Homo sapiens: one gene and its partners. The protein of the gene in region 2 binds, or shares a complex with, the protein of the main gene of each other region. Each region holds a gene or a part of one and is shown on either strand. Other genes may lie near its edges. A codon is read from its position in the direction of its gene.

The links.
Region 1: the proteins of LRRC32 (region 2) and TGFB3 are in contact, whole or in part, in a cryo-EM structure (PDB 8VSB), measured with the Homo sapiens proteins. Residues at the interface, in NP_001122394.1 of Homo sapiens: Ala110, Ser135, Tyr137, Ser160, Val184, Met186, Asp187, Ile188, Asp190, Phe193, Leu202, Leu204, Arg206, Asn207, Ser208, Thr210, Cys211, Ile212, Ser213, Asp214, Phe215, Ser216, Leu217, Cys227, Asn228, Ser229, Lys254; in NP_001316868.1 of Homo sapiens: Leu24, Ser25, Thr26, Cys27, Thr28, Leu30, Pro347, Pro349, Tyr350, Leu351, Arg352, Thr357, His358, Val361, Leu364, Leu368, Ser375.
Region 3: the proteins of LRRC32 (region 2) and TGFB1 are in contact, whole or in part, in a cryo-EM structure (PDB 8VSC), measured with the Homo sapiens proteins. Residues at the interface, in NP_001122394.1 of Homo sapiens: Ser135, Tyr137, Glu158, Ser160, Thr162, Val184, Met186, Asp187, Ile188, Glu189, Asp190, Phe193, Leu202, Leu204, Arg206, Asn207, Ser208, Leu209, Thr210, Cys211, Ile212, Ser213, Asp214, Phe215, Ser216, Leu217, Leu223, Leu225, Cys227, Ser229; in NP_000651.3 of Homo sapiens: Leu30, Ser31, Thr32, Cys33, Lys34, Pro325 (codon at 2,352), Pro327 (codon at 2,346), Tyr328 (codon at 2,343), Ile329 (codon at 2,340), Trp330 (codon at 2,337), Ser331 (codon at 2,334), Leu332 (codon at 2,331), Thr334 (codon at 2,325), Gln335 (codon at 2,322), Tyr336 (codon at 2,319), Val339 (codon at 1,393), Leu342 (codon at 1,384), His346 (codon at 1,372), Ala353 (codon at 1,351), Pro354 (codon at 1,348).

The regions. Positions count from the first base shown.
Region 1 is NC_000014.9:75,971,425-75,979,099, reverse strand, and holds part of TGFB3 (transforming growth factor beta-3 proprotein isoform 1 preproprotein), read left to right. Parts: intron 1-7,381; coding exon 7,382-7,545; intron 7,546-7,675. UniProt on the Homo sapiens protein: Transforming growth factor beta-3 proprotein: Precursor of the Latency-associated peptide (LAP) and Transforming growth factor beta-3 (TGF-beta-3) chains, which constitute the regulatory and active subunit of TGF-beta-3, respectively.
Region 2 is NC_000011.10:76,667,661-76,675,974, reverse strand, and holds the start of LRRC32 (transforming growth factor beta activator LRRC32 isoform a precursor), read left to right. Parts: upstream 1-5,227; 5' UTR 5,228-5,361; exon of another isoform or gene 5,362-6,213; intron 6,214-8,314.
Region 3 is NC_000019.10:41,329,818-41,337,492, forward strand, and holds the end of TGFB1 (transforming growth factor beta-1 proprotein preproprotein), read right to left. Parts: intron 2,465-7,675; coding exon 2,311-2,464; intron 1,394-2,310; coding exon 1,235-1,393; 3' UTR 506-1,234; downstream 1-505. UniProt on the Homo sapiens protein: Transforming growth factor beta-1 proprotein: Precursor of the Latency-associated peptide (LAP) and Transforming growth factor beta-1 (TGF-beta-1) chains, which constitute the regulatory and active subunit of TGF-beta-1, respectively.

The DNA of each region.
Region 1 (7,675 bases), on a different chromosome or scaffold from region 2:
TGCAGAGCTACTACTCCCTGCCCAGGGTCTCTGGGTGGGGCTGGCTCAGAGACCCACAGTTCCCAGAGGCACCTAGCAGCTCGATGGCCAAGGCTCCAACTCCCTGGGAACCCACCAACGCGGGAGATAGTGACCACAAGCATCAGAGGAAGGTCGAAATCTGAGGCCGGCAGGAGAGGTGTGAGGAGAGTCCAGGGCAAGAGGGCAGGACTCAGACCTTCATGGTCTGGGTCAGCAGGAGGAGTCCAAGGGAGGAAGCATTCTGAGTCACCAGGACCCCCCCATCCCGGAATCCTGAGCTGAGAATGAATGAGCCACGTGGAGGCAAGGCCATGCAGGTGCAAGTGGACACTGATTTTGTGCAGACTCAAAGCACAAATAGCAGATGTCCTTGGGAAAAGCCCGGGCAGGGCCCCATAGATGCTGGGCAGCTTCCAGGCTGCAGTACCAAGACCTTACAACTGCAACAGATGGGTGGATGTGGGGTTATGGAGCAATGGTCTGGCCTGGGGCAACCCAGCACAGTGAGCAGGATGCTGTTCAGGATGCTGGGGAGGAGCCAACGTGCGATGCTATGAGGCTCACAGGTACAAACCGGAAGCAGGCAGACTCTGCAGCTGTTGGAGGTGACTTGGAGGCTGAGCAGACGGACCTGGGCCCGCCCTGCAGCTGGTCGGGTGCTGAGCCCACCCCAGAGAGGCAGACACACAAGGCACACTAACTATAAAGAAGGCAGTGGGCAGGTGCTGAGCAGGAGCAGAGAGCCATCATCAGGGGCTTGCAAGGCGGCGGGGCGGGGTGGGGGAAGGAAGCCTGTCTTTAACTCATGAGGGCAGACAGGGGTGACACCAGGTCTGTGGTGGGGCACAGCAGGGTCTCAATGCCAGAGCCTCTGCTGGGAGGTCATGAGATCACGTTCTGTTCCATATTTCCTCACTTCTGGCCACTTCCCTGACCCAGTGAACATGCATTCAAAGGAAAGTGACAGTAGGAGCCAGGGCAAGGAGATAGAGGTCCCTGGAGAGGAAAATGAAAGAGGAAATACTTTTTAGTAGTGCAGGAGAAAGGGCACCAAGGTGAGAGCAGAGAGGAAGGCCTTTTCCTAAATAACCTTTTCTCCCTGTTTTACAGATAAGGAAACTGAGACCTGGATTGCTTAAGTAATTTGTCCAAAAAGAGCAGGGACCCTAACCTAGACATTCTGTGTGCAGGACGCATGTAGTTAAGCACTCATTTATATGTAAAATACACGTTGTAAGTGTTACCTTTAACCTCCTTTAACCTTTAGGGTTCAGTAGAACTTTGATTTATAACATAAATGAATCATGTGTTGGACCAAGCAGGAGAGGTCAGAGTTATTATCTTAGTAACCCAGGTGGCAGATTGCACAATGATAACTGGATTTGTTCTTCCTTAGCTCTGCATTTTTTTTTTTTTTTTTTTGCCCGGGAGATTCATACTGCCACAAATGTTCTCCCTAATTTAATGAAGGAGTTTTCTTTATTTAATGAAGAGTCTCAAGCAGGTTAAGCAACCGCAGCTACGTAAAAGTGACCTCTCTGAGCCTCAGTTTCCCCAGCTGTAAAGTTAGAGATGATTTCCAAACTCCTTTTCAGCTGAAAGAATTTTATAATTCCATCTGGGATGAATCAGCAGAGCCTCTATTGGGGAGTATGGGCAAGACTCTGTAATCCTTTTTCTAATTCTCCAGGATTTTACTGTCGGGAGGGAGTAGAGAGTTTCTCTGACCCCATGTGATGGGAAAGGACACAGCTTTTTTACTTCCGTTGTCATCCCTCTTACAAAGGTATCACCAATGTAGGTGTCATTTTATCTTCTGGCTTGTAATTATCTGTCTCTGTTCGGAGACTTGTTGTTTTCAGCCAAGGGCAGCGCTAAGACAACCAGCAAACCCAGAGTTTCTCAGCAAAGAGAAAACTCTATATTTTAGTCTTTGTTCTCTAGCTGCTAAGTGTAGATTTTGTTTATTCTGAGAATTATTCTGAAAATCATTTGCTCCAAGGGCCAATGCCCTCTGCACAGTAGAGGTCAGCACTTCTCCAAGTGTGGTCCAGAGGAAGCTGGAGGTAAATGTAGATTCCCTGGTCCCACCCACCCTTATAGAATCAGAATCTTGAGGGGGTGGAGTCTTGGGGAACCTGTATTTTCGACAAGCTCCTTATGGATTCTTAAGCACATTGAAGCTTAAGAGTCAGTGAACTAGGGCGAAACTTTTCTTAGAGGGATGGCAAACACAAGTGCCTACAGAGACCCGGCAGGAAATGCAAATGATCTGGAAGAAAAGCCACGGCGTCATGATAAACTGCACCAGGACACTTGGTCTTGGGGTCAAGAAGAAAGTAGGGTGTGTGAGACAGGGAGAGGGAGGGGACCTGGAGCCCACGTGCCCAGCCAAAGCAGCAGCCAGCCTCAGTTCTTGCTGGGTTTTGCATTGAGGACTGTGGGTCCAGCTTGATTAGTTCTTCCCGTGTCCCAGAAAAGCAGAAAATCTGGATCTTTCTGTGAAGTGTTCCAATTTTTAACATGGGCTTAAAATGTTTATGGGCTTCTAACTCAAAATTTTTAAAGGTGTTCCATCAGCGAAACAACATGTCTAATTCATTTAACGGTTAATCAATAGAAAGCTCACACCATTAAAGCAGTGGTTTCTCAAACTTCCAGAACATCTAGAAGCCATGGTGCCCTTTGCAACACATTATAATCTGTGGTTCTCAACCCTGGCTGCACGTTAGAATCATCTGGAGATCTTGAAAAAAATATGCCGTGGACCCCACTCACTCCAGTGTAGTCAGAACTGCTGGGGAATGGGTCCAGGAATCATTTGTTTTTAAAGCTTTCCAGGTGATTCTAATGTGCAGCCAGGGTAGAGAAGTACAGCCACACTGATAAATATAGTCCCTTCACTAGAACCAGCAGAAATGATATATACAAGCAAAGGCACACCTAGCCACCCAGGTGTCTGAACACATTTTAAAAGGCAGTTAACTAAACATGGTCAGCTATTTCCTGGTTTTTCCATGCATACTGTACATGAATATTCTTTGCTTATGTTTTGCCCCGTTAAACAAAATAGAGAAAATGGCATTCACCAATATATATTTTTTCTGTGCAATGGAAAAAGTTGCTCAAGATTTAATTTGTAAAGGTGGGACCCCCTAGTCCAGCTCTCAATAATACTAGTGTTCTGTGAGGCATGGCTTAAGAACCACAAACTCGTTTGCAGTGGGTCATTGTCTGAGGCATAGGTTGACACTCTAGGCCCATTTAGTGGAATCTTGCCATATTTTGTTGATGAAACCATCTTCACCAGATGATCTCCCAGATCCCTCCCAGCTTGAAGAGTCTCTGCTTCAATAAATGAGGTATGTTCAGAAGACCTGGGTTCAAACCCCACCTCCACCACCTTCTAGTTATGTGACCTTGGGAAAGACATTTAACTTTTTGAGGCTCAGTTTTCTCATTTGTCAAGTGATAAATTTTACATGTTTTCATTCTTCTCAGGGGTTGTTAGAAGGTCACATGAAGTAATAAAAACTCGACAAAACAAGGTGGTGCTATTACATTTTGCTTATTTATGTATACGATGATTCATTCCACAGATTACTTAAAACATCATTATTCAGTGAATTTGATTGTCAAGAAGATTGTATGTACATTTTCTTTGATCTCCCAGGCAATTCTTTTTTTTAATTAATTTTAATTTTAATTTTTTTGACAGAGTCTCACTCTGTCACCCAGCCTGGAGTGCACTGGTGCAATCTCGGCTCACTGTAGCTTCTGCCTTCTGGGTTCAAGTGATTCTCATGCCTCAGCCTCCCGAGTAGCTGGGGTTACAGGTGCCCACCACCACACCCAGCTAATTTTTGTATTTGGAGTAGAGATGGGGTTTTGCCATGTTGGCCAGGCTGGTCTCGAACTCCTGACCTCCAGTGATCCACCTGCCTCGGCCTCCCAAAGTGCTGGGATTACAGGCATGAGCCACTGTTCTCGGCCTTTAAAATTTTTAATTTTAAATAATAGGGATAGGTCCTCCCTATGTTGTCCAGGCTGATCTTGAACTCCTGGGCTCAAGCAATCCTCCCGCCTCAGCCTCCCGAGTAGCTGAAATAACAGACATGTGCTACCATGCCCAGCTAATTTTCGTATTTTTTATAGAGATGGGGTTTCACCATGTTGGCCAGGCTGGTCTCAAACACCTGAGCTCAAGCAATCCACCCACCTCAGCCTCCCAAGGTGCTGGCTGGGATTACAGGCGTGAGCCACCATGCCTGGCTGCCAATTCTTCTTCTTCTTCTTCTTTTTTTTTTTTTTTTTGAGATGGAGTCTCACTCTGTTGCCCAGGCTGGAGTGCAGTGACACAATCTCAGCTCACTGCAACCTCGACCTCCCAGGTTCAAGTGACTCTCCTGCCTCAGCCTCCTGAATAGCTAGGATTACAAGCATGCACCATCATGCCTGGCTAATTTTTGTATTTTTAGTAGAGACGGGGTTTCACCTTGTTGCCCAGGTGCCAATTCTTTTTTAATCACTAGCAATTGTGTCCTAAGCTTTGCTTGCTAGTGTCAAGTTGCTTGTGTCAGCTAACTTCTGAGTGACTCTGGCCAAGACCCTCTAGACAGCCATTTCTTCCTCTGAAGAGGGTTGCGCCACATGACTCCTGATGTCCCTTCTAATCATGGGAAATCTATATATCCCAGTAATAGAAAAATGACCTTTCCCACCTCTTTCTTGAAACCTTAAAATTCTCCCCAGGATGTGTTCATCCTGGGGAGCAGATTATGATTGATAGGCTGGAAGAAACCAAAGAGGACGGCCACTAGGGTGTCCTGAGAACTCTCTTAGCTCATAACTTTCCCCATCTCCTGGCTTCCCACTGCCTTGACCCACTCTGACTGTCTCACCAGCAAGTGCCATTTTCCATCTCCCTTCTTTTTTTTCTGAGATGGAGTCTCACTCTGTTGCCCAGGTTGGAGTGCAATGGCACCACCTCAGCTCATTGCAACCTCTGCCTCCTGGGTTCAAGCGATTCTCCTGCCTCAACCTCCTCAGTAGCTGGGATTACAGGCACGCACCACCAGGCCTGGCTAATTTTCATATTTTTAGTAGAGACAGGGTTTCACCATGTTGGTCAGGCTGGTCTCAAACTCCTGATGTCGTGATCTGCCCACCTCGGCTTCCCGAAGTGCTGGGATTACAGGCGTGAGCCACCGTGCCCGGCCCCATCTCCCTTCTTTTTACAGCAAGGTGCATGTTGCACTGACTTACCCTTTATTCCTCTTGTAGTCACTGGAGCTGTGTTATTTATTTACTTTATTAATTTATTTATTTACTTGAAACAGAGTCTCCCTCTGTTGCCCAGGCTGGAGTGCAGTGGCACAATCCTGGCTCACTGCAATCTGGACCTCCCGAGCTCAAGTGATCCTCCCAGCAGGTGCTATTGTAACTGAAGCCATATCAATAACAGCTCCTTCAAAACCCAGCTCTGTTGTCCTTGATAGGGTTGCCAATGCAAGTAGCTTATCCACATTCAGAGTATTACAAACTTGTAAACTTACACATTACTTAACTATCACTGATTTCTCTCCTTGGTTCTATCTGAAATGGTTTAGGGAATCGTTGGCAGTATCTGTTCTTTCAAAGCCAATTATTAATCAGGGCTTCATTAGACAGCATTCACACATTTGTTTTCCTAACATCTGTTCCATTAATTTTCTAAGAACCAGCGTCAGGCCCACCAGATGGCAATTTCCAGAAACACTCACTCATCCTTTCCTGAAGATCAGTAGCGCATTTGCTTGTTTCCAGGCCTCTGATCCTTCCTGCCTTGTCTGTGACTTCCTCAACAACCCCTCGGGGTGATTATAAGCTCATTCCAGCCATGTCCATTATGTGTGGAATCTGGGTCTATGAGCTTGAATTTCAACTTCGGGCTATTGTTACCATTTGTGCAGAAAGTTTTTCTCTGGGTGTTAATACTGCTCAGACCTTGAGGCTGTCAAGTGTACAGGAGCAGAGAAAAGACAGGCTCTTTCTCTTTCTCTGGCTCAGAGGGGTGGGAAAGAGCATTCGCTGCCCACATCTTGTGGACAGGGATGAAGAGGCCAGCAGGTGACAGCGTCTGGCATAGCACGTGCTGTCAAGGAAAGAGAAAGGAGCCAATGGTGACACACCAGCTTGGTCAGAGGAAGCATCTGTGTTTCTGCCAGGCTCATGATGTGGGCTCTTTGCTATATAAGCCCTGCTTTATTGGGTCTAAAACACAAGGTTGAGATGTCACTGCACTGCTCAAACACTTTCAGTGACTCCCTACTGTTAATGGGTTAAAATTTAACCTTTTAGTCTGACAGGTGGACCCCAATCTATCATCTTGCCCTTTCTCACCTGGCTCCCACCTGCTGTTTCGGGCCCCTCTTACTCATTTGCATTTCCTCCCCTCCCTGCCTTTGCTTCCAGCAGTCACTCCATGTAACATTTCTTTCCTCCCCATCCTCAAATCCTCTCAATTTTCACCCCTTCCGTGAAGTGCTCCTTGCCATTTCCCTCCTTTGATTTCCTGCAGCAACTCCTGGACTTCTCTGAAAACCACTGGTTTCCTGTCGCTCCCCTCACCTGTGCTCCTGCATTGTGACATCTTCCGGGGCACTCTGTCCTATTATTTCTCTCTAGTCCTGTTATTTGGGCCCATGTATTAATACCCCCCCTTAGATATTAACCCATAAGCCTGAGGCTGCACTTTTTTGAATTTTGAAATCAGACCTTGGCCTTGACCTTGAGCAGCAGGATATAAATAACTCTTACATGCTTAGCGTTCCAATAATGGAACACCAGGCATAAATGGGTTTTAATCCCCTTGAAGGCAGGGGTTGTGTCTACTCATGTTTTGCTTCCCAAGGTTAGCACTATGCTTGGCATATAGTAGCTGCTCAATACATCTTTGATAAATGAATGAATGCCCAGATGAACAAACACACGAATAAATCAACTAGCTGTAAGATATGTAAACTACTAGGTGCTGATATCTTTCTAGAATCAGTATTTTCTCAAAAAGTAGGAAAAACGGGTTGGAAAACTTACCAGAACTGAGATGTCAAGGCAGTGGGAGGAGGGGGCAATTAGATTTGACTGGCCAGTCTAGTGCCATGTTGTGGAGCTCTGAGGCCACACTGCTCCTTGCTCAGGACTGTGTGTGATTCTAGGGCCACCAAGAATCTTCCTCGTATCTCCACCTTGCGGTCTGAGGCCTCAAGCCTCTAGGGAGGTGGCAGGCGGGACGGTGGCCACTTGGTGCCTGTCCGTTGGCAGCACACTGTTCCTGCATGTCTCGCTCATGCTGTGCCCTCTGCTCTGCTTTATCTCCTAGACGAACTGGCTGTCTGCCCTAAAGGAATTACCTCCAAGGTTTTCCGCTTCAATGTGTCCTCAGTGGAGAAAAATAGAACCAACCTATTCCGAGCAGAATTCCGGGTCTTGCGGGTGCCCAACCCCAGCTCTAAGCGGAATGAGCAGAGGATCGAGCTCTTCCAGGTAACTCCTCTCTCAGAGCAGAAACCACACCGACGGGAAAGCTGGTTCCTTTGCCATATCAGGGCACCACTGGGTGCAGCGTTTGGCAGACCTGGGTTTGAATCCTGGCTTCTCTGAGCCTTCGTTTCCG
Region 2 (8,314 bases):
ATGCTCCTTCAAGTGACGAAATGATCGAGTATTCAGTGGGTAGGCGCTGGAGCCCCACTGCCTGGACTCACCTGTACTGGCTGTGCAAGCTTAAGTTAATTACTCATCCTTGCTGCATTTCCTCATGTGTCATCTGCAAAATGGAGCTGCTGCTAATAATAATAATAATAATAATAATATCTACCTTCTTGGGTGTAGTTAAGGATTGAATGGCTTGCAATATGACAGCTGCATTAGAAAGCTGCCTGGCCCAGCCTATACCCTTCCCGACTTGAAATTACTCACAGTAAGAAAGATTAATAATCCTGTTAACCATAACCTTTACATTTCATTCCTTCATTTCTGCGATGCAGTGAGGGAGGGGCTGGCGTTATCTCCACTTCATAGGTGAAAGCTGGGCAACTATGACAGCAGGGGCCAGGGCCTGCCCCGAGCCCCACCGCAGAGCCTGCCTGCCCCTCATCATCACGGTACTTCCCTGGAGCAGTGCGTCTCAAAGGGTGGTCTGAGGACTGGCAGCATCAGCGCCACTGAGGGTTTGCTGGAGGTGCAGATTCCGGGCCCCACCTCTGACCTACTGAACCAGACTCTCTGGGATGGGGCCTGGCAATCTATTTAGCCAGTCCTCAGGGATTCTGATGCTTGCCAAAGCTTGAGAAGAACTGGGCTAGACCTCTGAAGAGGTTGCTGTGTGAACCCAGGAGCACCCCACGTGAGGCCTGTGGAAGAAAGTGGAGGAGGAGAATAAGACCTTCGGCCCACTGTGTGACCTCGGGCCACGTCCTCACCCTCTCTGGGCCTAGAATCTGTCATATTTCTTGGCATGGGATTAGAGGAGGCTGGGAAGATTCTCTGAAATTTATGGCCACCTCTCCTCCTCTATGCCAGCACCCGGCTCCTGTGAGTGGTGCTTTTAGGAGCTCATGTGTTTGCAGCCACCTCATCCTGGCCTTGGCTCGTTGCTGTTTTTAGTACCTTGGAGATGACACTTTGTGACCTCACAGACCATAACCAAAGCCCAAAGTGATAAACACTGGATCATCAAGAAAAGGGTACATCAGGTTTAACCTTTAAGCAGTTAAAACAGAGGAAAAAGTTGCATGGCTCAAAGGCACAAGACCTCGGGTTCCCAGCAGCCTGGTGCTGCAGAAAGCTGCGGTTTCATGGTCCACAGCTCAGCACAGCATCAGGTTGTGGAGACACTTCTGATCCTGCCCTGCCTGGTCCATCCCCCCAACTCCCTTGGGGCCTCTGGGAGCCTCCAGTCCCTTCAGTCACAGTAGTCACTGACGGGACTCTGAACCAGGAGCCTTTCGTGTGGTGGCTGCGGGGTATATGGGGTCTCACCAGCACCTGCTTCCCCTGCCTTGGTAACGCTAAGTGCTGCCATGAGGGGGTGCCTTGTGCCTCCATCAAGAACAGAAAACCCGCAGAGTAAGTCCTCATTCTCTGGCCACGAATGAGGACTTGGAGCCTGAGGACTTGGATGGGCATGCCCACTGTGTCTGCTGTGTGACCACCAGCAAGTCATAGAGTCCCTGCAGGCTTCATCTCTCTTCTGTAAAAGGGGGGCAGAGATAGGCCTCCCCTCGTCAGATGGCTATGGGCAGGGGATAAGTAAAGAACCTGGCCCCAGGCCTGGTCCTGCAAGCCCTTGATATTCCCACTCAAGAGACCAGCTACTCCCCACCACTGGGCCATTCATAACATCCTCCTGCCCCTCCAGGAGGTGGCCTAGAGCTGGTGTGGCCTGAGTCCATTTGCCCTAGGGAGAAAGGGAGGGGAGTCAGGGGAAGAACTGGGGAACCCAGGGTTCTGCCCTAGAAGGCAGGGCCCAGAAGGGGCTCGTGAGGGAACTCCCAGACTCTCAGGGGCCCATGTGGGTGCTGGGCAGAAGCAGGGAGTGAGGACAGCCACATCTCTGCACTGAGACCTGGCCTGAAAATCAGAAGACCTCGGTTCAATTACTGGCTCCATAGCTGTGCTGTGTGACTTTAGGCAGTTGCTTAACCTCTCTGAGCCTGGTCAGTAATTGAGAATAAAGGTCTCTGAGTTTCCTGGTCAGTCATTGAGAATAAAGACACCTAACTGGAAGGCTGTCTATGGCTGTCTTTACTCTCATTTGCCACATGAGATGAAGGACTGACCCACAGTGAGGGTTCAGCAAACAGCAGTGGAGACTAAATTGTCAGTCTAGGGTGCCATGGTCCTTTCCACTCTGGCTCTACAGTTAGATCAGGACAGCAAGGCTCAGAGAGTTTTAGCAGCTTGTCCAAGGTCACACAGGATGTGCACATCATCACCTTTCTGGGCCACTTGCTCCTGCGTAGGACCCTCAGGTTTCAATCTGGCCTGAGGTGAAATCCTCCCAGGGAGCTTTGAGCCTGACTTGGTGCCCGAGTGGGTTTTTTCATTACAGAATGGTAGTCCCGAGGACACAGGAAGAGATGCATCTCTTATATTTTCACTGACAATGCATGAAGGAATGGAAGCATTTCCACAAAAATATCAACACCATGAAGACTGAGCTGTCTGCTGATGGGCTGCCCAGGAGAACTCCCCATTTCTGGAGGTGTGCCAGCAGAAGCTAAGTGACACTGGATGGGAAGTTGGACTTGGTGGCCTTTAAAAGACCCTCCACATGGCTGCAAGGCAAGCCTGAGTCTGCTCAGTTTCCACCCACTCCTCCTCCTGCAGACTCAAGCTCTGCCTCCTAGACTTGGCCTTCAAGGCCTCTGGACTCAATCATCCTCTGTGCTCTCATCTGTCTCTCATCTGGCCTGGGAGCTCCAAAAAAGTAGGCATTGGGCATTTTTATTCAGCAACTGTCCTGGGCCCACCAGAGGAGAGAGGTCATGTTTACTGAGCAAAGGCCCCCGCGACCAGGAACTTCACACGTGTCATTACAGGCCATCCTCATACACCCGGTACTGTAATTAGTTTCACTTTGCAGGTCAGCAAACCAAGGTCAGGAAGGCTGAGCAACCTGCCAAAAGTCACACAACAACATGACTGCCAAAGAAGTGAAGAGATGAAGGAAGGGGCGCTGAGCCTGTGGGCTTCCCGGCTTTTAGCCCCTGGTCCCCAGAGGCATCTGCAGCAGGTGGGCACGCTTGGTTGCCCATCTGCCTCAAATGTGGGGGAGCCCCATCCGGGCACTGAGTAAGGTGGAACCCCACGAGCTGACTAACCACAACCACAGCCTCTGGGGGCGGGGGAGTGGGAGGTGGGGCACTCACCCCCAGCCCACCATAGCCCCAGCCCCGCCCTCCTGGGCCCTAGCAGAAGCTCTGCCATGGCCCAGTGATTTCTGCTTGGTAGCAGCTCCGGGAAGGGTGAGGCAGTGCTCAGCGAGCCTGGGTCTGGATGGCTGGGAGCTGGTCTGATACACAAGGCCAGGAACTGCCCGAATGATCCAGTCACTCTGCTCATACTGCAGGGCAGCTTCAAAGCACTTTCCTGAACATTTGGCCCCTTGGACAGGGACCTGGAAAAGGAAGCCCACAGGATATAGGAGTATCCACCAACTGCCACAATAAAGGCAGTGAGAAGTTGCCTAACAACCACTGGGTGCAGGCTCCAGCTGGATCCATTGCACTTAGTTCTAGCACCAACTCCAAGTAGTAGCTACTATCTTTCCCACTTTACAGATAGGGGCACTGAGGTTCCATTTGACCAAATGGAGCACTAGAGACCAGAGAGGGGGCTGGATGGACCAGCTAGGACCCTGTGGACATAGATCTGAGGCCTTGGGTGGCTGGGAGGGAAGGGAAAGAGGTTTGGATACCCTTCGCAGGCCCTGCTGAGAGATTCCTTACCTGCACCTCCTGCCCATCCCCTCACTGCAGCTCAGGCCTCCTCCTTAGGGAAGCCTTCCCTGATTTCCTCTTCTAAGACTAGGTCAGGCCCCTATGGCACCTGCTATCATGGCTTGTCCTCTCTGGGTTGACCCCATCTCCCCAGATCCATCTCCACAGTGGACTGAACAGGGGTAAGAAAAGGCAGTAACTGTAGAGACTTCAGGGAATCCCGCTTCTGAGCCCAGCCTTACCCTGATTTGCCACAAGGCCCTGGGTGGTCACTTTCATGCATGTAAAATGGGGCACCCTGCCCCACTCTCAGGGCTGGTGACGATCAGGGAAGAGAAACACTGTGGAAGAGGCCCCTTCTACACTTGGAACCAGGACCTGGAGGACAGCCAGGGCCCCTCTCTTCTAGGGACCCGCATACTAGAGTCCACAGGCAGCAAGGCAGGGTACCTGTGATTTGGTAGGGTCAAGGCATCTAGAAGAGAGGTGGCTTTGGGAAAGATCTGCTTCAACCTCCAATCTAAATGACAATACCGCCACCCCATATTTGCACAGTACTTTAAAAATTCGGGCAAGATAATGCCCAAACTGAATCAGACTTAGCTTTATGAACAGATTGGGCTCAAATCACTGATTCTTATTAGCTGTGTTGACTTTGGACACGCCATTTAACCTTTTCTGAGCCTCAGGTTCCCCAGCTATAAATAGGGACCTTACTAGTCTCAGACAATTGGTTTTCATGTGTACACACTGCCCCCACCCCTAGCCTCAGCTTCTCCATCCGAAAACAGGACTTTGATGGTGCCGTTTCACAGGCTGTTGAAGGGTCCCGCAGATGATGGAGGAGTACGGGTCCAGACACTAGAGCACAATCCGGAGAGGAAAAGTGACCTGCCAGGACCCACCAGAGTGGACGGCTTGGTGCGGGGAACCCCCTCCGCGGCCGCCCCAGGGCCAGCGAAGGGTCATTTCCTTCCGCATTCAGCCCCGCCGTCACCTCGCCTGTTTGCCCCCGCGTTAAGTGCGGCGGCGCCAGCAGCTGGGAAATCGGGGCCAGGCCGGATTTCCTCTGTGGACCTGCGGCTCCTAGAGCCACCGCGCCCCCCTCCGGACCCCGCGGGGCCGCGAACTGCACGTGCGGCGGCCGCTGGGATGGGCCTCGCTCCCACGGCGCTTCCTCTGCAACCCCTCTCCCTCCCGCCCTCTCATCCCCCCACACTGGGCCCCCGCCCCTTCCCGGCCGAGGTCCCAGGGTGGTGAAGATGCTTCGCCGCCCCACCCCACTCCGCCCCCGCCGGCTCCGGATAAACCGAGGCACGGGGCCAGGCGCTAGGACCCCACGGCCTCGCCAGAGGGGGGCGTGGCGGGGCGGGCCGGCGGGAGAGGTATTTAAATTGCAGCCGGAGCGCGGGGGCTCCGGTGGGGCAGCTGAGCGGCCTGCTCCTCCTCGGGCCGTGACCCCGGGGTCTGGCGCGGGGTGGGACCCGGGGGCGGGTTTGCGCAAAATGTGCCGAGACTGCCCGGGAGAGGAGCTGCGGCCGCGCTGAGCCAGGTAGGAGCCGCCGGGCAGGCGAGGCTGGCCGGCCCTCGGGGGGCGCACTGTCGCGCGCCTCTAGCGAGCGCAAGGCGGGGGCTGGTCCCAAGGGACGCCCCCCAAACACTCCCCTCCCGCCATCCCCACTGCGCGCGTGGAGCCGGGGCTGACCCTCCCTCGGTCCCTGGGAGTTCCCCAGCGCTCCTGTCTTGGCGGATCTTTCCCGCAAAGGGGTGAGGCCGGCCTTCCCATTTGACAGCTGGGAAAACAATGGCCTGAAGACCGTGACTTGCCCAGGAACACACAGCTAGGCAAGGGCAAACCGGAATTTGAATTCAGGTTTCCTGCAACGCTCCGATCCCAGCCAGGCGTGGGGCTGCCCATCCCACAGCACTAGATGGCCTGCCCATTTCTCGTAGTGGGGTAGGGGGCACCCACCGCTCTCCAAGGGGCTCTGAACCCAGCCTTCTTCATGGGTGGTAAGATGTGAGGGGCCCCCACCCCCACGCCGAGCTGCCTGAAATTCCGCCATCACAGCCACATTCCTTTGGGTTAAGGTCTAATTCCCCCGTGGGATGCACATGTCTCCAGAACGAGGCTTGCCCTTAGTGATTCACTGCTTGACAGGAACGTCCGCAGCAGCTCTCCCAGGACCCCACTCTGCCAGTAAGTCAGCTGAGGCCGAGAGGAGGGAGAGAGGACCTCAGAGGCCAGACTGTGAGCTAGTCTGCCCTGCTCCTGCGTGTGAGGGGTCGTTGGCAGGGCTTAGGGAAGGAGACCTTGATTTGGTATAGTGGGAACATTTGCTTTGGAGACAGATGAACTGGATTCTGATCGTGACCCTGCTATTTTCTCCTTGTGTGACTTTGGGTAAGTCACTTCTCTGAGCCTCCTTTTCTTCATGGGCAAAAAAAAGACAGTTCTATTGGGGGCAGTCGGCTCAGCATGTGCTGGAGAAAACACAGTATTCAGGTCATGTAGAACTGGATAAATCCCAGCTCCAAAGCCCTTATGAGCTGGGTAACTCTGGGGGTAAGTCACTTCACTTTCCGGAAACTGTTTTCTCATCCGTAAAATGGGAATTACAGTAATTTCCTCAATAGGTGATTGTGAGAATTAAATGAGATGATATAGGTCAAGTGCTTAGAAGACTAACATCCTTAAATGTAGGGGTGGGCTTATTGTGGTAGTAGTCATTGCCCCCCGTACCCCTGCTCTTTCTCTCTCACTCTCTCTCTCTCTCTCACACACACACACACACACACACACACACACACACACACACATTCTTTGGCACTTTTCTGAGTTGGACTCCTGAGAGTCCGACTCTCCTGCCTCCTCTTGCCCAGGCCACTTGTCTGCAGGCTTGGGGCCTCCCCACTGAGCACACCTCACCTGGGATGCTCAGCCCTGCGAGGGTCACTGTGTCAGCTGGGAAGGACAGTGAGGATGCAGGGCACCTTCGCCACCATTCTTTGCCTGATCATCACAATAGTTGGGGTTGGCCAGTGGCAGAACTGGAACCCAGCTGCCTACCCTGCAGACAGGACACTGGGGCACCAAGAAAGGAAGGGACTTACCTTAGGGAGCAGAGCTGGTGAGTGGTGGGCTTTGGATGCAAGCCTGGGTCTAAGTGACACCGTCCTCCTTTTTGAGAGAGAGTAGTCTTTAAATGCTACACCCTGTACTTGGGCACCACTGAGGAGGGCCCACAGCTGAGGGGCCCTTCCCGTCAGATGCCAGGACAGAGTGCCCATGTGCTGCAGGGACGATCCCTTCTGGATGTGCACAGGGCCACCTTGGGGATAGAGTGGGGTTTGGCAGAGGAAGGGGAAATAAGGGCCTAGGACCCTTCCTTGTCCTCACCTGGCACTCACCACTCAGTCCACTGCAGCTGAGCTTCTGCCCTGATTTTGCCACTTGTTCACTAGTCTTTAGTGAGTACCTACTTAGTAGGCCCCTGTTCCCACATGATAAGAAATAAATGATGAGGAAATGATAAATGTGGGAAAACAATGACATGTGTGAGGAGCTGAGGAAGAGCATTCAGGGAGAGGAAACTGCAGGAGCAAAGGCCCTGTGGCAGGAATGAATTTGCTGTGTTGAAGGAACAGCAGGAAAGCTGGAATGTGGTGAGGGAAGGGAAAATGGGCAAGAGTCAGAGAGGAGACTGTGGATAGCCTGGATTTTCTTGGAGATTTTCAAACAGAAGAGGTTTAGGATCTGACAGATGATTTTATATTATCACTCTGGCTGCTAGGTACAGGACAGATTATAAGAGGTCAGGGTGCTGTGGTCAAGGCCAGGATTGGGGTGGCGTCTCGGTCTGTGGCAGTGATAAGAGGGAAGTAGGAAGATCCGGGGTCTCTTTCAGGGAGAGCAGTCAGAGCCCACTGACGGCATGGATGGGTGAAGGGAACGTTGCAGAGAGGTGAAGGGAGAGCCAAGGAGAACTGCTCTCAGTAACGACCCCATGTCACCGAGACTCCTAGTGTCGGTTTTCTGTCCGCTGCTGACCTGTTGTGTGCTGTGAGATGCATCTTAAAGGATGGTGAGCCCCTCTCTAGGGGCACTTCCCATGGGAGGGGGTGGGGCCCAGTAGCCACGGAGGGCTTGGTGCTGTGCTCACTGGAAGCTCAGGGGCTCTGGGAGGACTGGAGGACATAGTCCAGACTTGGGGAACCAAAGAAGGCCTCTTGGCCCATCTAAGCTGGGACCCCAAGGATGAGGAGGTCTTTAGCAGAAGAGGAGAGGGGAGAAAGTGAAGGTTTGGGGCAGTGAAAATCTGCTCAGGGAACTGAAGGAAATATGAGGTGTCCAGAACCCAGAATGTGAGAGGGGACACCGGGGAAGCAGGCTGGAGAGCAGAGCTGGCCAGGCAGGGCATGCTCCCCAGTGGCCTGGAAGGCCCTGCCGGAGGGGTTTTCACTCAGTTCTGAATATGCTAACTTTCTAACGGGCGGTGGCGTTC
Region 3 (7,675 bases), on a different chromosome or scaffold from region 2:
CCATGTGGTCCAGGCTGGTCTCAAACTCCTGACCTCAAGTGATCCCCCTGCCTCAGCCTCCCAAAGTGCTGGGATTGCAGGTGTGAGCCACCGTGCCCAGTCTTTTTTTTTTTTTTTTTTTAAAGATGCAGTCTTGGCTGGGTGCGCTGGCTCATGCTTGTAATCTCAGCATTTTGGGAGGCCGAGGCGGGCGGATCACCTCAGGTCAGAAGTTCGAGACCAGCCTGAACAACATGGTGAAACTTCGTCTCTACTAAAAAAAAATACAAAATTAGCCGAGCATGGTGGCGCATGCCTGTAATCCCAGCTACCCAGCTACTTGGGAGGCTGAGGCAGGAGAATCGCTTAAACCCGGGAGGCAGAGGTTGTGGTGAGCCAAGATCTCGACATTGCACTCCAGCCTGGGCAACAAGAGTGAAAATCCGTCTCAAAAAAAAAACATAAAAAAAAGATGGAGTCTTGCTTTGTCACCCAGGCTGGCATACAGTGGCACAGTCAGGGCTCACTGCAGCCTTGACCTCCCAGGATCAAGTGATCCTCCCACCTTAGCCTCCAGAGTAGCTGGGACCACAGGTGTACATTTTTTAAAAGTGTTTTGTAGAGATAGGGTCTCACTATGTTACCCAGGCTGGTCTCAAATGCCTGGATTCAAGTAATCCTCCCATCTCTGCCTCCCAAAAGTGCTAGGATTACAGGCGTGAGCCACCCCGCCTGGCCTGAACTACTATCTTTTATTGTCTTCTTCACTATCCCCCACTAAAGCAGGTTCCTGGTGGGCAGGAACTCCTCCCTTAACCTCTCTGGGCTTGTTTCCTCACCTTTAAAATGGGTGTTATCAGAGTCCCTGCATCTCAGAGTGTTGCTATGGTGACTGAATGAGTTCATTAATGTAAGGCACTTCAACAGTGCCCAAGGTGCTCAATAAATAGATCTAACTACAGTAGTGTTCCCCACTGGTCCCCTGTGCCTTGATGCCGGGCAAAGGAATAGTGCAGACAGGCAGGAGGAGGCAGAGAGGGAGAGAGAGGGAGTGGGAGTGGGGGAACGTCAGGGATGGAGACCCCAGGCAGGCGCCCAATGACACAGAGATCCGCAGTCCTCTCTCCATCTTTAATGGGGCCCCAGGTGGGCTTGGGGCACGGGTGTCCTTAAATACAGCCCCCATGGGCAAGGCAGCGGGGGCGGGGCGGGGTGGGGCCGGGCCTGCCGGGGCGGGGCGGGGCGGGGCGGGACCTCAGCTGCACTTGCAGGAGCGCACGATCATGTTGGACAGCTGCTCCACCTTGGGCTTGCGGCCCACGTAGTACACGATGGGCAGCGGCTCCAGCGCCTGCGGCACGCAGCACGGCGCCGCCGAGGCGCCCGGGTTATGCTGGTTGTACAGGGCCAGGACCTGCGGGCGGCGGGCGGGGTCAGGGCTCAGGGCTCGTGGAGGGAGGAAAACGGCCCTCCACTGCCCCATCCCCCACCCGCTACCGCGCCAGCCTCTCTCACTTCGTCTCTCCCCGCATCCCCTCTTCCCATCTCCAATTCGGTCTCTCTTATCTTCTAACATCCTATCTTATTCTGTCTCTCCCCACCTGTCTGATTTTCTTTTTGTTTTGAGACTGGGTCTCGCTCTGCCACCCAGGCTGGAGTATAGTGGCACGATCATGGCTCGCTGCAGCCTCAACCTCCTGAGCGCAAGCCATCCTCCCGCCTCAGCCTCCGGAGTAGCTCCAACCACAGGCAAGCGCCACCACTCCTAGCTTTTTTTTTTTTTTTTTTTTTTTTTTTGGTAGAGATGGGATCTCAGTCTGCTGCCTGGGCTACTCTCGAACTCCTGGGCTCAAGCGATCCTCCTGCTTCAGCGTCCCAAAGTGTTGGTATTACCATCGTGAGCCGCCGCGCCCGCCTGATTTTCTTTCTCAGTCTCTGTCCCTCCTCATCTTCGCCTCTTGCCTTGTTGTGTATCTGTCTTTGTCTCTCCTTGGCCTAACTCTGTGTCTGTATCTGTCTCTCTCATTTTGTCTCTCCATTTCTGCGTTTTTCCTTCCATCTCCCTGTCTCTCTTCTCCCCTTCACCCCCATCCCTCTGTTACTTCACTCTGTGGGTCTTCATAGCTCATCTCCCTCTGGCCCCTGCTCAGAGCCCCTCTCTAGCTTCCTGCCTCTCTCCCCATCTCTTTATTCATTCCCCTCCCCACCCCATCCCTCTCTTTCTCCCCATCCTGCCAACTCACCTCTCTGACTTTACTTCTCTTTCTCTCTCCTCTTCCTCCGTCCTGGCTCCCCCCAAGCGCATCTCGTAGCCCGGTGGGCCAGACGTACCTTGCTGTACTGCGTGTCCAGGCTCCAAATGTAGGGGCAGGGCCCGAGGCAGAAGTTGGCATGGTAGCCCTTGGGCTCGTGGATCCACTTCCAGCCGAGGTCCTTGCGGAAGTCAATGTACAGCTGCCGCACGCAGCAGTTCTTCTCCGTGGAGCTGCAGGCAGGAGAGACGCGTCAGGGGCAGGGAGGGGCTACCACCATAGAAGCCACATGCCCCTCCTCCCCAGGTGCGTGTGTCACCCTAGGTTGCCCCCCCAGCCCTATCTCCATCTGGGTCTCCCTTGCACCCACTGTGTTAATAACAACACAAATAGTCATGATAATCACTAACACAGATTAAGCACTTCCTCCAGTGCTAAGAGCAATGTAATAATTAATTTCACGCAATGCTTAAGACAAGCCTGTAAGAAGCCAGATGACCATCCACGGGGGGGCTAAATAAATCATGGCATGCCACACCCTGGAACATACAAAATAACACAGCTCCATGTAAACTGATCTGCTCTATTTGTGCAACAAATGTTTATTGAACTACTACTGTGTGCTGGGCTGGGATCTACTGTGGACTGAGGACAAATGAAACAGATAGAAATAGGCTAGGCATGGTGGCTCACACCTTTAATCCCAGCACTTTGGGAGGATGAAGTGGGAGGATCGCTGGAGTCGAGGAGTTCGAGGTTGCAGTGAACTATGATAACACCACTGCATGCCAGCCTGGACAACAAAGTGCAAGACCCTGTCTCTACAAAATTTTTTTTCAATTTTTTTAAAAAAGAGACAGAAATCTCTGCCCTCCATGGGCATGCTATAAATTGTCTTGTCACTCCTCTGCTCTGAACCTGGCTCCATCTCACGGCAAATGCCCAAGTCCTCACCGTGAGCCACAAGGTGCTATCAAATCTGGCTGATCTCAACTCCCTCTCTCACGCCTACTCCACTCCAGCCACACTGGCGTCCTGTCTGTTCCTCAGACAGTCTTATTTCGGGGCTCCTGCATCTGCTGTTCCCTCTGCCTGCCTTGCTAGTCCCACAGATACCCACTCCAGCTTGTTCCTTCACTTCATTTCTTCTTTTTTTTTCTATTTTTTTTTTTTTTTTTTTTTGAGACAGAGTCTCACTCTGTCTGCCAGGCTGGAGTGCAGTGGCATGATCTCGGCTCACTGCAACCTCCGCCTCCCAGGTTCAAGCGATTCTCCTGCCTCAGCCTTCCGAGTAGCTGGGATTACAGGCGTGTGCCACCATGCCCGGCTAATTTTTTTGTCTTTTTAGTAGAGACAGGGTTTCACCATGTTGGCCAGGCTGGTCTCGAACTCCTGACCTTGTGATCCGCCCACCTCAGCCTCCCAAAGTGCTGGTATTACAGACCTGAGCCACTGCATCTGGCCTATTTATTCTTTTTAATTTGTTATTCTTTTTAGAGACACGGTCTCACTATGTTGCTGAGGCTGGTGTCGAACTTGGGCTCAAACGATCCGCACGCCTCGGCCTCCCAAAGCATTGGGATTACTGGCATGAGCCACCACACCTGGCCCCTTCACTTCATTTAAACCTTAGCTCAAATGTCCTTCACTCAGGGACCCTTAACTCCTAAAGCAGTGTCTGGAATGCAGTAGGTACTAGTAAATATCAGTTACATGACTGAACATCACCTCCTCAGAGATACCTTTCTGAGCCATCCTTTCCAAAATATCCAAGTGACTGTTAGTTCCATTTAGTGCAATACGGTATTGCAGTTATGCAAGAAAATATAAAAATGTCTGCATTTGAAATGGGGCAAAATCTTAATTACCGATGACGCTGGATGAGAGTTTACGGGCATTCATTATCTTCATTGCTTTTGTATACATTTGAAATTTTCCATAATAAAGGAATTTAAATCAGAATAGGAAAAATAACAGTTCCCAATATCTATTACTCTCTGCCTGCCTTCTTCTGGTTTATTTTACTTCTTAGAACTGTCAAAGAGGCCGGGTGCAGTGGCTCACGCCTGTAATCCCAGCACTTTGGGAGGCCAAGGCGGGTGGATCACCTGAGATCAGGAGATTGAGACCAGCCTGACCAACATGGCGAAACCCCGTCTCTACTAAAAATACAAAAATTAGCTGGGTGTGGCGGTGCTTGTCTGTAATCCCAGCTACTCAGGAGGCTGAGGCACAAGAATCTGCTTGAACCCAAGAAGCAGAGGTTGCAGTGAGCCAAGATCGTGCCACTGCACTCCACCCAGGGCAACAGGGTGAGACTCTGTCTTGAAAAGAAAAGAAAAAAGAAAGAAAAGAAAAGAAAAAGTTGACAATGCCTTTTTTTTTTTTTTTTTTTTTTGAGACAGAGTCTTGCTCCGTCACCCAGGCTGGAGTGCAGTGGTGCAATCTTGGCTCACTGCAACCTCTGCTCATAGATTGGTGGGGCCAGCCAGGCACGGTGGCTCACGCCTGTCATCCCGGCACTTTGGGAGGCTAGGGCAGGCAGACTTGAGGACCCTGTCTTTACTAAAAATTCAAAAATTAGCTGGACCTGGTGGCGGGCACCTGTAATCCCAGCTACTGGGGAGTCTGAGGCAGGAGAATCGCTTGAACCCAACTTCAAGTGGCACCGGATAACCTAGAGGCAAGATAAAGCCTTTCCAAGAGCCACAGAAGCCTGAGAAGGAAGTCAAGAAACTGAGATCCCTGTGAACTCAGCCCGTACCACCCAATTTGGTTGGACCTCAGTTTCCTCATCTGTTCAGAGGTAGGAGCTACTAGATAAAATAAGGTGTTAAGCTGAGGGCCAAGGGGCCATCATGGGCAGGCTTAGGGAGGGCCATGAGTGCCTGAGATCATATGCACATGTGTGTATGTATGCATGTATTTCTGGGAAAAAGAGTCCTGGCTTTCACTTTCTCACAGGAAGTTCTGAACTCACAAAAGGGGAAGAACTAGTGTCCGGAATCTTTTTTTTTTTTTGAGATGGAGTTTCCCTCCTGTTGCCCAGGCTGGAGTGCGATGGTGTGATCTCAGCTCACTGCAACCTCCGTCTCCCGGGTTCAAGCAATTCTCCTGCCTCAGCCTCTCAAGTACCTGGGATTACAGGCATGTGCCACCATGCCTGGCTAATTTTTTGTATTTTTAGTAGAGGCTGGGTTTCACCATGTTGGTCAGGCTGGTCTCAAACTCCTGACCTCAGGTGACCCACCCACCTCGGCCTCCCAAAGTGCTGGGATTACAGGCATGAGCCACCGCACCCGGCTCAGAATCATCTTTAATATGCAGTTCAACCCTAGCTGGGGTTCTGAGATCCTAGGATTTGAACAATCTGTGATACTGTTATCCAAGTCAGCAGCTCTCCACGTGAGCTCCCAGGACCAGCGGCAGCATCACCTGGGAACTATGGGAAATGCAGATTCTCAGGTGGCACCCCAGGCCACTGAAATCAGAAATTGTGTGCAGGACTGGGAACAACAGTCCGTGTTGAACAAGCCGTCTAGGTGATCCTCTGACTCATTTTTTCAGCACACATTCGGGGCCTACCCTGCACCGGGCCTTGGGATACCCACAGCCCTTGCCCTTGCCAAGCCTCTTCCGTCCAGTCTCTCAAGACCTAGGCCAGGTGCAGTGACTCACGCCTGTAATCTCAGCACTTTGGGAAGCCAAGACCGGTGAATCGCTTGAGCCCAAGGAGTTTAAGACCAGCCTGGGGAGCATAGTGAGACCCTGTCGCTACAAAACTTTTTATAAATAAAAGACCCAACAGAGACTGTTTGTTGAGTCAAAGATCTACTTAGGGCCCCAGGGGAGCCCAGAGGCCTCACATCCATCTTGGATGTTGGAGAAAGGGGTTAGGAAGGAGGTAGTGTTCGAGCTGCCTTAAGAACAAATTTTCCTATGAAAGTTTTTTTTTTTTTTTTTTGAGATGGAGTCTTGCTCTGTTGCCCCAGGCTGGAGTGCAGTGGTGCAATCTTGGCTCACTGCAACCTCCATGTCCCAAGTTCAAGCAATTCTCCTGGCTCAGCCTCCCAAGTAGCTGGGATTACAGGCACACACCACCATACCCAGCTAATTTTTCTGTATTTTTAGTAGAGACAGGGTTTCACCATGTTGGACAGGCTGGTCTCGAACTCCTGACCTCATGTGATCCACCCGCCTCAGCCTTCCAAAGTGCTGGGATTACAGGTGTGAGCCACCGCGTCCAGCTGGAAAGTTTCAGATGTACACAAAAGCAGCTTCAACAATGACCAACTCATGGCCAATTTCCATTGCATCTCTACCCCTATCCACTATCTCTTTTTTTTTTTTTTTTGAGACAGGATCTCACTCTGTCACCCAGGCTGGAGTGCAGTGGTGCAATCACAGCTCACTGTGGCCTCCAGCTCCTGGGGCTCAAGCCAACCTCCCACCTCAGCCTCCTGAGTAGCTGGGACAAAAGGTACACACCACCAGGCCCAGCTACTTTTCATATTTTTTTTTTTGGGAGATGGGGTTTCACCATATTGCCCAGGCTGGTCTCCAACTCTTAGGCTCAAGCAATCCTCCTGCCTTGGCCTCCCAAAGTGGTGGGATTATAGCTGTGAGCCACTGCAGCCAGCCGACAATGGTTTATCTCAAAGCACATGCAATCCACCGTGTTGCTTCATCCATAAATATTTCAAATGTATCTCTAATTAAGACTACTTTAAAACACAGTCACAATACCATGTAAGAAAATTAACAATTCCTTGATATCTAGAGGAATATCTAGACAGAGTTCACATTTACCCAACTGTCTCATAAATATCTTTTTTTTTTAAGCCTGTGTAAATAAGGATTCAAGTAAGGTCTACACATTGCAATTGGTTGATATGTCTCTTAGGATTTTTTTTTTTTTTTAATTTTTGAGATGGAGTCTCACTCTGTCACCCAGGATGCAGTGAAGTGGTGCAATCTCGGGTCACTGCAACCTGTGCCTCCCAGGTTCAAGTGATTCTCCTGCCTCAGTCTCCCAAGTAGCTAAGACTACAGGCGCCTGCCACCATACCCTGCTAATTTTTGTATTTTTAATTATTTATTTATTTTTTTGAGACGGGAGTCTCACTCTTGTTGCCCAGGCTGGAGTGCAATGGCGCGACCTCGGCTCACTGCAACCTCCACTTCCTGGGTTCAAGCAGTTCTCCTGCCTCAGCCTCAAGAGTAGCTGGGATTACAGGGCCCGCCACCACGCCTGGCTCATTTTTGAATTTTTAGTAGAGAGGAGGTTTCACCACGTTGGCCAGACTGGTCTCGAACTCCTGACCTCAGGTGGTCCACCCACCTTGGCCTCCCAAAGTGCTGGGATTACAGGTGTGAGCCACGACAGCTGGCCTGATTTTTGTATTTTTAGTACAGACAGGGTTTCACCATGTTGGCCAGGCTGG